Linked DNA regions of Homo sapiens: region 2 is linked to region 1. The links come from fine-mapping of genetic effects on gene expression. Tissue or cell type: whole blood. Region 1 holds a variant in brackets; the other region holds the start of a gene. All regions are shown on one strand. Distances are from middle to middle. Region 1 has its middle 6.2 kb from the start of SNAR-A12. Region 2 holds the start of CABP5 (calcium binding protein 5).

What was found. PIP is the estimated chance that this variant, and not a neighbour inherited with it, causes the effect.
Region 2: it holds the start of CABP5, and the variant in region 1 is the best candidate, but not a certain one, in a credible set for the expression of CABP5 in whole blood (TOPMed, PIP 0.87).

What each region holds. Positions count from the first base shown.
Region 1 is chr19:47,898,828-47,904,204 of GRCh38, forward strand. No RefSeq gene overlaps it. Among named protein-coding and RNA genes, the nearest start is that of SNAR-A12, 6.2 kb to the right of the region's middle. The variant G/A (reference allele first, on the strand shown) is at 2,381.
Region 2 is chr19:48,041,713-48,047,089 of GRCh38, forward strand. CABP5 (calcium binding protein 5) reads right to left here and starts at 2,367. Exons shown (of 6, transcript NM_019855.5): 1 at 2,148-2,367. The coding sequence starts at 2,210.

The DNA.
Region 1 (5,377 bases):
TTGTTAGGATGTATTGCAAGACACTATAGTGGCATAGCCCAGATGGGGCAAACAGAATATGTATGGTTTGTTTCCTGACTCTGAGCAGTCAGCAGTCGATGCACAGAACTCTGCACGCCCCTCCCCCCACAGTGTCTATTCCGGTTCAAGCATGCCTACTGAAACACTAATTTAAGTCCTTTAATTTCTACCGGTTGACCCTGATGATGTCTGTGATGTTTAGACTTTTGTGTCAGCTTGGCTAGCCTGCAGTACGCAGTTTTTTGTTTTTTTTTAACAGAATCTTGCCCTGTCGTCCAGGCTGGAGTGCAGTGGCACAATCTCAGCTCACTGCAACCTCTGCCACCCGGGTTCAAGCAATTCTCCTGCCTCAGCCTCCTGAGTAGCTGGGATTACAGGTGCCCGCCACCACACCCGGCTAATTTTTGTATTTTTAGTAGAGACGGGGTTTCACCATGTTGGCCAGGCTGGTCCTGAACTCCTGACCTCAGGTGATCCACCTGCCTCAGCCTCCCAGGCATGAGCCACTGTGCCCGGCCCAGTACCCACTTGTTTAATCAAATGCTAGCCTAGGTGTTGCTGTGACAGTATTTCGTAGACACAGTTAACATCTACAATCAGTTGATTTTAAATAAAGGAGATGAATGGCGATAACCTGGGTGGGCCCAAGCTAATCAGTTGAAGGCCTTAAGAACATAAAGAGGTTTCCTGTAGAAGAAATTCTGCCTGAAGACTGCAGCATCAAATCCTCTCTAAGCTTCCAAACTTCCAGCGTGCCCTACAGATTTTGGACTTGCCAGCCTCTACAACTGCATGAGTCAATTTCGTCAATTTCTTTACTCCTCCCTGCCGTGTTTTTTTTTTTTTTGAAACAGAGTCTCGCTCTGTCGCCCAGGCTAGAGTGCAGTGGCACGATCTCAGCTCACTGCAACCTCCGCCTTCTGGGTTCAAGCGATTCTTGTGCCTCAGCCTCCCAAGTAGCTGGGATTACAGGCGTGCGCCACCATGCCCAGCTAATTTTTGTGTTTTTAGTAGAGACGGGGTTTCCCCATACTGGCCAGGCTGGTCTTGAACTCTTGACCTCATGCAATCCACCCACCTCTGCCTCCTAAAGTGTTGGGATTACAGGCATGAGCCGCCGTACCCAGCCCAATTTCTTGAAATCAATCACTTTCCTGTTGATTCTGTTTCCCTGGAGAGTGCTAACTGTCCCCTTATCCTATGCCACAGATTTACTCTTCTGATCCTTTCATTTATTTGATACTCGGTGAATTATACGAACACTAACTATGGGCTGGGCCCCATCTTGTCCAATAATTTCCCCTCTGCATATAAGCCCAGACTCAATTTAAGATCCCTAAAACATGCACCAGTGCCCAGATGTCCTTAATGGAGCTAAGGTTTCAGGCTATTGAAGATGTTAGGAAGGGAGGACAGAAACCAAACACAGTAAGTTCTCAACACAGAATTCAGAATTTCTCTCTTATTCTATATGATTGTTCTTCTGACTACATATATACCTTTTGTGACAAAATACGAACACCTTTGGAGATTAAGTGCTTAACCAGTGGGATTGCTTCATATATCATTATCTGTAGCCTCACTCCCTCAATTATTTCTTTCTTTTTTTTTTTTTTTTTTTTTTGAGACAGGGTGTTGCTCTGTCACCCAGGCTGGAGTGCAGTGGCAGGATCTCGGCTCACTGCAACCTCTGCCTCCCGGGTTCAAGCGATTCTCCTGCCTCAACCTCCCGAGTAGCTGGGACTACGGGCATACGCCACCATGCCCGGCTAATTTTTTTTTTTTTTTGTAAAAAGAGAGGGGGTTTCACCATGTTGGCCAGGTTGGTCTTGAACTCCTGACCTCAAATGATCTGCCTGCCTCGGCCTCCCAAAGTGCTGAGGTTACAGGCGTGAGCCACCGTGCCCAGCCATCTACTCTTAAGTTTGGTTGAAGTTTGTTTATATATTGTTAGGTTACAGTTTGCCACATAAGGAGGCAGCTTTAGGCCAAATTTCACTTAATTTAAACAACTGGTTTTCTCAATGCTGCAGTGAGGTGAGGGCAGAAAGGCTTGAGCGCTTGATGTGTCGGGAGGGAAATATCTTCACTAACATAGAACAACCTGAAATTTCAATGGATCACATCTGAGAAATGAATCTGAGGTTGAGTTGAAATCAAATATATAAAGTCAGGTAGGAGTGAGGACAAAATGCCAATACTTGATGTTTCATAAATGCTTTCATACATACCAGGGAACTATTATTATCTCTATTTTAGAGTTAAAAAAGGGGGTGTTCAGAGTGGTTAATCATTTTACGAAGTCATGTAGCTCCTAAGTGGCAGAGCTGGGATTTGATCCCAGGCACTTTCATTCCAA[G/A]TCTGTGTTTGTAATCTGTGACTTATGGTCCCCAAAAGATACGTTCACGTCCCAACCTCTGGAACCTACCAATGTGACCTTATTTGGAAAAAGGGTCTTTGCAGATGGCATCAAGTGAAGAATCTCAAGATGAGAGTATCATTAATTACCTGGTGGGCCTTAAATCCAATAACAAGTATCCTTATGAGATAAAAAAGAGGAGAAGACACAGGCACACAGAGTAGAAGGCCACATGAAGTTGGAGGCAGAGACTGGAGTGTTGCAGCCATAAGCCACCGAAGGTCTGCAGCCACCAGGCGCTGGAAGAGACCAGGAAGGATCCTTCCCCAGAGCCTCCAGAGGGAATGTGGCCTGACCGATACCTTGATTTTGGACTTCTGGCCTCCAGCACTGTGAGAGAATAACCCACGATAGTGTGGTGGTTTGCTCTGGCAGGCACAGGAAGCTAATACAGTGCTCTTTAGTTCTACATGGCCCCGCTTCCTCCAGAGCTACGTGGGCCTTCCCTATTAGTTGATGTTCATCAGTTCTATTGCACAAAGCTGAAGATGTCCAACAACGGTACTCAAATCCCACACATCCTTGGGGACCTTGAGGGTTCTAGGCTCTCTAAGGTAAGGTGCCTGTTAGGGAGGACAGAATCCAGAAACAGTGAGTTCGTTTTTTTTTCTTTTCTTTTTCTGTTTTTTTTGAGAGGGAGTTTCACTCTTATTGCCTGGCTGGAGTGCAATGGCAAGATCTCGGCTCACTGCAACCTCCGCCTTCCGGGTTCAAGCAATTCTCCTGCCTCAGCCTCCCGAGTAGCTGGAATTACAGGCATGTGTCACCACTCCAGGCTAATTTTGTATTTTTAGTAGAGATGGGGTTTCACCATGTTGGCCAGGCTGGTCTCCAACTCCTGACCTCAGGTGATCCAACTGCCTCGGCCTCCCAAAGTGCTGGGATTACAGGCGTGAACCACTGCGCCCAGCCAACAGTGAGTTTTTAATACAGAACCCAGAACTTCTCTCCCATTCTGTACTCTTCTCTAACCATATAAACAAAAATTAATAAGCCAAACGTTTGTGGTGGGGCATGGTAGCTCACGCCTGTAATCCCAGCACTTTGGGAGGCCGAGGCGGGTGGATCACGAGGCCAGGAGTTCAAGACCAGCCTGGCCAAGATGGTGAAACCCCGTCTCTACTGAAAATACAGAAATTAGCTGGGCGTGGTGGCAGGCTCCTGTAATCCCAGCTACTCCAGAGGCTGAGGCAGGAGAATTGCTTGAACTCGGAGGGCGGAGGTTGAAGTGAGCCGAGATTGTGCCACTGCAATCCAGCCTGGGTGACAGAGTGAGACTCTGTTACACACACAAAAAAAAACAAAAAACAAAACAACAAACAAACGTTTGCATCTGAAAGAAATCTGCATACTTTTGTATCATTTTCGTTGATATTTCTCTCAGGTTCATCAATCTTGCCAGAAGATCTGCAGAATCTGCAGATATTCTTACTAGAGAAGCCGCAGTGAGTGTGAACATTTCAGCCGGGGATGGGAGGAAGGAAAAGCAGTCCTGGGGACATTTTTTGCTCCAGGGGACCAGTGATGCTCCATTAAGTGGCACTTGCAGATCAAGTTCTGTTTCTGCTTTGAACAGAATGTTCAGGCACCCGAGAGATAGAACAAAGTGCTGAACTCCGTTCTTCACGTCATTAACCTTAATGACCTTCAGACAGTTCCCATCCATACACAGAGTCCTACAGATTTTTGAGATCCAAAAGGTTATTTTACTATTGTCTTACCAAATTTCTAGGGGACTTGTCTTTAGAATTAGGTAGCGGCTATGTGAATCTTCCAGGGGTAAAGGTCCTCTGCTTCCTCACAGGGATTCTCCCACAATCCCTTCCTGCATGCCACAAACACAGCATGTCCCTTTCCCCTCAATCCCTGCACCTTCCAGGCAACATTTAATGCACCTTTTTTTTTTTTTGAGACAGAGTCTCACCCAGGCTGGAGTGCAGTGGTGCGATCTCGGCTCACTGCAACCTCCGCCTCCTGGGTACAAGTGATTCTTCTGCCTCAGCCTCTTGAGTAGCTGGGACTATAGGCACATGCCACCACGCCTGGCTAATTTTTCTATTTTTAGTAGAGACGGGGTTTCACCACATTGGCCAGGCTGGTCTACAACTCCTAACCCCATGATCTGCCCACCTTGCCCTCCCAAAGTGCTGGGATTACAGGCATGAGACACCGCGCCTGGCCTTTTTTTTTTTTTTTTTCTTTTTTTTTAGGACAGAGTCTCACCCAGGTTGGAGTGCAGTGACACGATCTCTGTTCACTGCAACCTCCGCCTCCCGGGTTCAAGCGATTCCCCTGCCTCAGCCTCCTGAACAGCTGGGATTACAGGCACCCGTCCCCATGCCCGGGTAATTTTTGTATATTTAGTAGAGATGGGGTTTCACCATGTTGGCCAGGCTGGTCTCGAACTCCTTACCTCAAGTGATCCATCCGCCTCAGCCTCCCAAAGTGCTGGGATTACAGGCGTGAGCCAGTGCGCCCGGCTTCTTGAATTAGTTTCTAGGAGAAGCCAAGAACCCCCCCGGGCTAAGCCTCAATTTTGGGGCTCGCCTGTGCTGCATCAGCTTCACACCTAGAGAAGAGAGTGAAAGAGAAGGGAGAGCCGTCCTTTTGGGCTGCCTTGAAATAAAGGTTGACCCATGGGTTCATGTATTGTCATTCATTCTCATTTTCTCTTCCTCTCTTTCTCTCTCTCCCCTGCCCCTTAAGTTAGCTTTTCTAAACCCTACCTGGATAAGGATAAGAAATAGAAGGAGGGGACACTTTAGGATGCTACAAAATAAAATACAACAACAACAACAATAACAGCAGCAGCAACAACAAAACAGCAACAAAAGGGGAAGAAACAAATCTGGCCACTGCACATTCCTCCTTGGCAACAAAAAGCCGTGGATGCAAAAAGCTGCCCTTCACTGCATAGACAGAACAGGGCGCGCTCGA
Region 2 (5,377 bases), 140 kb after region 1:
TTCTCTCTCTCCTCCTCCATCCCTCCCATTCCTTTTCCCATCTCCTGACTCCTGTTCCACAGTTCTTGGCTCCCCACCCCCCTCTCGATGTCTCTCTCCCACCCACGAATCCCAATCTCCCTTTTTCTCCCTTTCTGAGACAAACACCCATCACATTGTGTCAAAGGGGGTCTTAAACACTGGGGAGTCCAATCTCCAGATGAAAAAAGTGAGACTTCACAACCACAGCTAACTCATTCAGAGTGGTGACTCTGTGCCAGGCAGTTTCCACAATCATTTCATTTAAACCTCAGTACTGCTCTGTGATGCAGATCTACATCTCGTTTCCATCTTACCCATGAGAAAGCTGAGGAACAGAGAGGTTAAGGAACCTGCACAAGGTCACACAGCTCACAAGCAGCAGATCCCCTCCCAAGGGAGGAAGGCATTCACCTGCTCCCTGGAGGTCATGGGGCAAGTCAGACACAGTATTGGGATTTGAATTCAGGGCTCCTGACTCCCAAGTCAGAATTCTTCACACTAGCCCCCATTCACTCCTTTCTCACCTGCCTCCAATCTTCCTGCCAAAGGTTAGAATCTCTGTGCATGGAAACAGCATTCAATGGCTTTCAGGCAGGAGGGTCAGTGCCAGCATGACCAGTTCCTAAACACTCTGAGAATGTCCAGTTATTGCTGCCCCACCTACTCCTGCACATACCTGAAGGGTTGGGCTTACATATACATGGCATGTTAACAAGGAAATTCTACTGACCTCTGGTCTCTTTAGCCTTCCCATCTCCCTTTATCCCTGGAGCCTTTCCCTCAGCTTCTCTTTCATCTGATCCCCTCCTTGCGGTCCCTTATCACCCTTTTTTTCATTCTCTCTCTCTTTTTTTTTTTTGAGACACAGTCTCGCTCTGTCACCCAAGCTGGAGTGCAGTGGCACGAACTCGGCTCACTGCAACCTCTGCCTCCCGGGTTCAAGCGATTCTCCTGCCTCAGCCTCCCGAGTAGCTGGGATTACAGGCGCCTGCCACTGCACCCGGCTAATTTTTGTATTTCTAATAGAGACAGGGTTTCACCATCTTGGCCAGGCTGGTCTTGACCTCCTGACCTCGTGATCCACCTGCTTTGGCCTCCCAAAGGGCTGGGATCACAGGCGTGAGCCACTGCCTGGCCTTTTTTATTCTCTTTTTTTGGTGATCTTAAAGCCTAACAATGAAAAGTATGCCCACATATCTGGACAAGTTGGTATATATGGAAAAATAAAAAAATTTTAAAAAGCATGCCCACAGGAATCAAGCAAACCCGACCCTGCCACTTACTTTTTTTTAACGAGACAAAGTCTCACTTTGTTGCCCAGGCTGGAGTGCAGTGGCATAATCAGGGCTCACTGCAGCCTCCACTTCCTGGGCTCAAGCGATCCTCCTGCCTCAGCCACCTGAGTAGCTGGGACTGCAGATGCATGCCACCATGCTGAGCTATTTTTTTGTATTTTTAGTAGAGATGGGGTCTTGTGTTTCCCAGGCTGGTCTCAAACTCCTGGACATAAGTGATCCTCCCGCCTCTGCCTCCCAAGATGCTGCGATTCAGGCATGAGCCACTATACTTGGCCGACCCTGCCACTTACTAACTGTGTAAGCTTAAGGCAAATGACTTCATGACTCAGAGCTTCACTTTCCTCACCTGTAAAATGGGAATGAAAGTCACTGACCTCATGAGTTGTTCTGAGGTGTAAATAACATCAGGTGTGCAAATCCCTTTGCACAGGGCTGGGCACAGAACAATGACTTAATAAGTGGCAGCTATTGTTATTAACGTCATCATTATCATCACCACCACCACCATCATCACCACCATTATCACAATGAGCATCCATAGAAAAGAATGATGGTAATCTCAACAATGACATCATCCCACTTTCCCTTTTCATTTTTCTTCCTTTTCTCTCCTTCTCTTTGCTCCTGACTTTTGATTTTACCCCCACCCATTTATCTCACTGGCTTACATGACCCCACCAGGGTCCTTGGAATTTCTTATACCTTCTCAGCTCCTGCTCTATCCACCTGTTCCCCTGGTTCTGTGGCACCATCATGTCCCCTTCTTTGTCCCACACCCCTGCTCCCTTTGCCCCGCCCACCGCCCTTCCCCCTCACTCCCCACCTCACCCGCTGTTTCTCAGCAATGCCTTTCCTCAAGAAGATGCAGGCGGGGCCCATGGGGAACTGCATGGAGGGGTGGGGTGGAGCTCGCAGGGCACCAGTCTCAAGATGGCCCCTCCTCCCTGCTCCCTGTCGGAGCTCAGCCTCCTTATCTTCTCCAGCACTCCTTTGCCACCTCTTCCTGCCTCTCTTGGCTTCTCCTTCGGTCCCGGTGTCTTAGAGCTGTGACAGCTGGGCTGGAAATCTCTACCCGGGTTGGGGAGGGACCAGAGCTGTCCCTGCCTCCCCATCTGGCTTGAATGATATGGGTGGGGAAATGCAGAGTCAGGTTCTGTGACGCCTTTATCCCCAGAGTGGAATTGGAAAGTGCATTTTATAAATGGGGATTAGAGGCTGGATGTGGTGCTCATGTCTGTAGTCCCAGCGCTTTGGGAGGCTGAGGTGGGAGGATTGCTTGAGCCCAGGAGTTTGAGACCAGCTGAGCAACATACGGAGAGGCTGTCTTTACAAAAAATAAAAAAATTAGCCGTGCATGGTGGCACACACCTGTAGTCCCAGCTGCTCCAAAGGCAGAGATGGGAGGATTGCTTGAGCCCAGGAGTTCAAGGCTGCAGTGAGCTATGATTGTACCATTGCACTCCAGGCTGCAGTGAACTACGATTGCACCATTGTACTCCAGCCTGGCTGACATAGTGAGACCCTGTCTCGAAAAAAAGAAAAAAAAAGAAAAAAAAGAAAAGAAAATGGAGGATTAGAGCAGACGGCATCATTTATTCAATGTTCCAACAAGCATGTGAAGGGTCACTCCAACACTGGCCTCTGGGCAGTGAGATGGAGAGCTCAGCACCCCTGGCCTCAGGGAGTTTTCCTGGGTGAGTCGGGAATGTGTGAGAGTGAGCAGGATGCAAGCATGGACTTCAGGAAGTGGGCGTACACGGTGACTAAGAGCATGGCATTTGCTCTTCCTCTGTTCATCTCTTTCCTTCTGTCTTTCCTGAATGATTTAGAGGGAAAAAGCAAGGTGGGGGTGTCAGGGAGGGTGTGAAGTTATGGTGGTGTCAAAGCCCAAAGGGGTTTTGCGACTCCACACTAGGTAGGGTTAGGGGAGGAGGGGGCTGGGGGCCATCTGGCGTGGAGAGCCAGCATTCCAGTGGGGTAGTGGGGTGAGGAGAAGTCCACATAGAGGGGCAGCATGACCCAGGGTGTTGGGGCTGGAGATGGTGGGGATAAATCCACAGATGGGCAGCTTGGTGTGCAGTGTTGGAACATGAGCTGAGTGGGGCGGGGGCATTTATATGCAGGCATTGTCTGGGGTGGAGGTTTGCACTGTAAGGCAATTAGGAAGGAGGCCACATAGAGGGGATCTGGCATGGGTTGTCATAACCCAAGCAGAGAGAGAAATGTCCACTCATGGGAATAGCATGGTGTATGGTGTTGAAGCCAGACTAGGCTGGGAAAGACATCCCCACAGGGGTGAAATGGCAAAGGAAAAGGGAAATTGGCTACACACAGTGAGTAAGGGGAATGGGGGCCAGGTCTCCTACTGTTGGAAAAGGGAGTTACTAAGACAGAAAGGAGGAAAGTCGAATGAGCCCTGTGGTGTTGGACTATAACTGGAGGCGTTGGTATGTCCTCATGGATCTCAATTATACATAGAGAGATAAAAATAAACACATAGTTTCAGTGTGTATAGGAACATTTGTACACATATTCTCTAGCTCTCTCCACTAAGAGAACATAGAAACAATGATGGCCCATATGAATGAGCACCACTAGCATCCAAATCTTGACTTCTATATACCATTCTCCACCAAATGGAACCAGAGTGCCTAGGAAATTTGGCTGATTCCATGTCTAGAGCAAAAAAAGAACAAGATGAGCCTACAAACGTCCTATGCTTAAAGCAAGAAATTGCTCAAAGTGTTGTGAGAACATGTGGAAAGAACACAGGAGTCTGCTTGAAGAAGCTCCATTGGCCATACTGGGCAGTTTGAGAGTCAAAATAAATAATGATAGTAACAAATTATACAGGACCACAGAAGAAACCAGGAGTCCATACTCAGATAAATAAAAAGCTAAGTGAGAAGTTTGATATTTACAGAGCTCAAAATACCTCCCTACAAAATACCAATTTCAAAGGAGTTACGTTATAGTGGAGAAACGTGGCAAACACCATCTTAGTCAATGAAAGTGGACATCATCAGTAATGTGACAAGTTGGAATTTCACACCACCTGACAGGATGTCACGAGAACAGCATCGCTTCTGTAAGATTCCTGAATCTCATCATAATCAGACGTCAGACGAACCCACATGGAGGGATGGTTTACAAAATAACTGGCCTGTAAGCTTCAAAAATGTCAAGGTCATGAAAATCAAGGAAAGATTGAGGAACCGTTCGAGATTGGAGGAGACTAAGAAGACATGGCCGAGGCTGGGCGCGATGGCTCACACCTGTAATCCCAGCAATTTGGGAGGCTGAGGTGGGCAGATCACCTGAGGTCAGGAGTTCGAGACCAGCCTAACCAACGTGGAGAAACCCCGTCTCTACTAAAAATACAAAAAAATTAGCCCGGCATGGTGGCACATGCCTGTAATCCCTGCTACTCGGGAGGCTGAGGCAGCAGAATCGCTTAAACCCAGGAGGCGGAGGTTGCAGTGAGCCCAAGATCGTGCCATTGCACTCCAGCCTGGGCAACAAGAGCAAAACTCTGTCCAAAAAAAAAAAAAAAAAAAAAAAAAAGCTACGACTGAATGCAACACAGAATTCTGAACAGGATCCTTCTGCTATCAAGGTCTTCTTTCGGATGACTGGTGGTTTGCTGGCAATAGTTTGGCGGCCCTTGGTCAGTAGAGCCTCACCCCAATCCCTGCTTCCATGTTCACATGGTTTCCTCTCTGTATACATGCCTGTCTCTGTCTTTAAATCCCCCCCCCTTTTTTAAAAGAATTTTATTTCAAATCTGGGATACATGTGCTGAACATGCAGGTTTATTACATAGGTATACATGTGCCATGCTGGTTTGCTGCACCAATCAACCCGTCACCTAGGTATTAAGCCCTGCATGCATTAGGTATTTGTCATAATGCTCTCCCTCCCCTAAATCCCCCCTTTTCTTTCCTTTTTTTTTTTTTTTTTTTTTTTTTTTTGAGACAGAGTCTTCACTCTGTCACCAGGCTGGAGTGCAGTGGCATGATTTGGCTCACTGCAAGCTCCACCTCCTGGGTTCAAGCGGT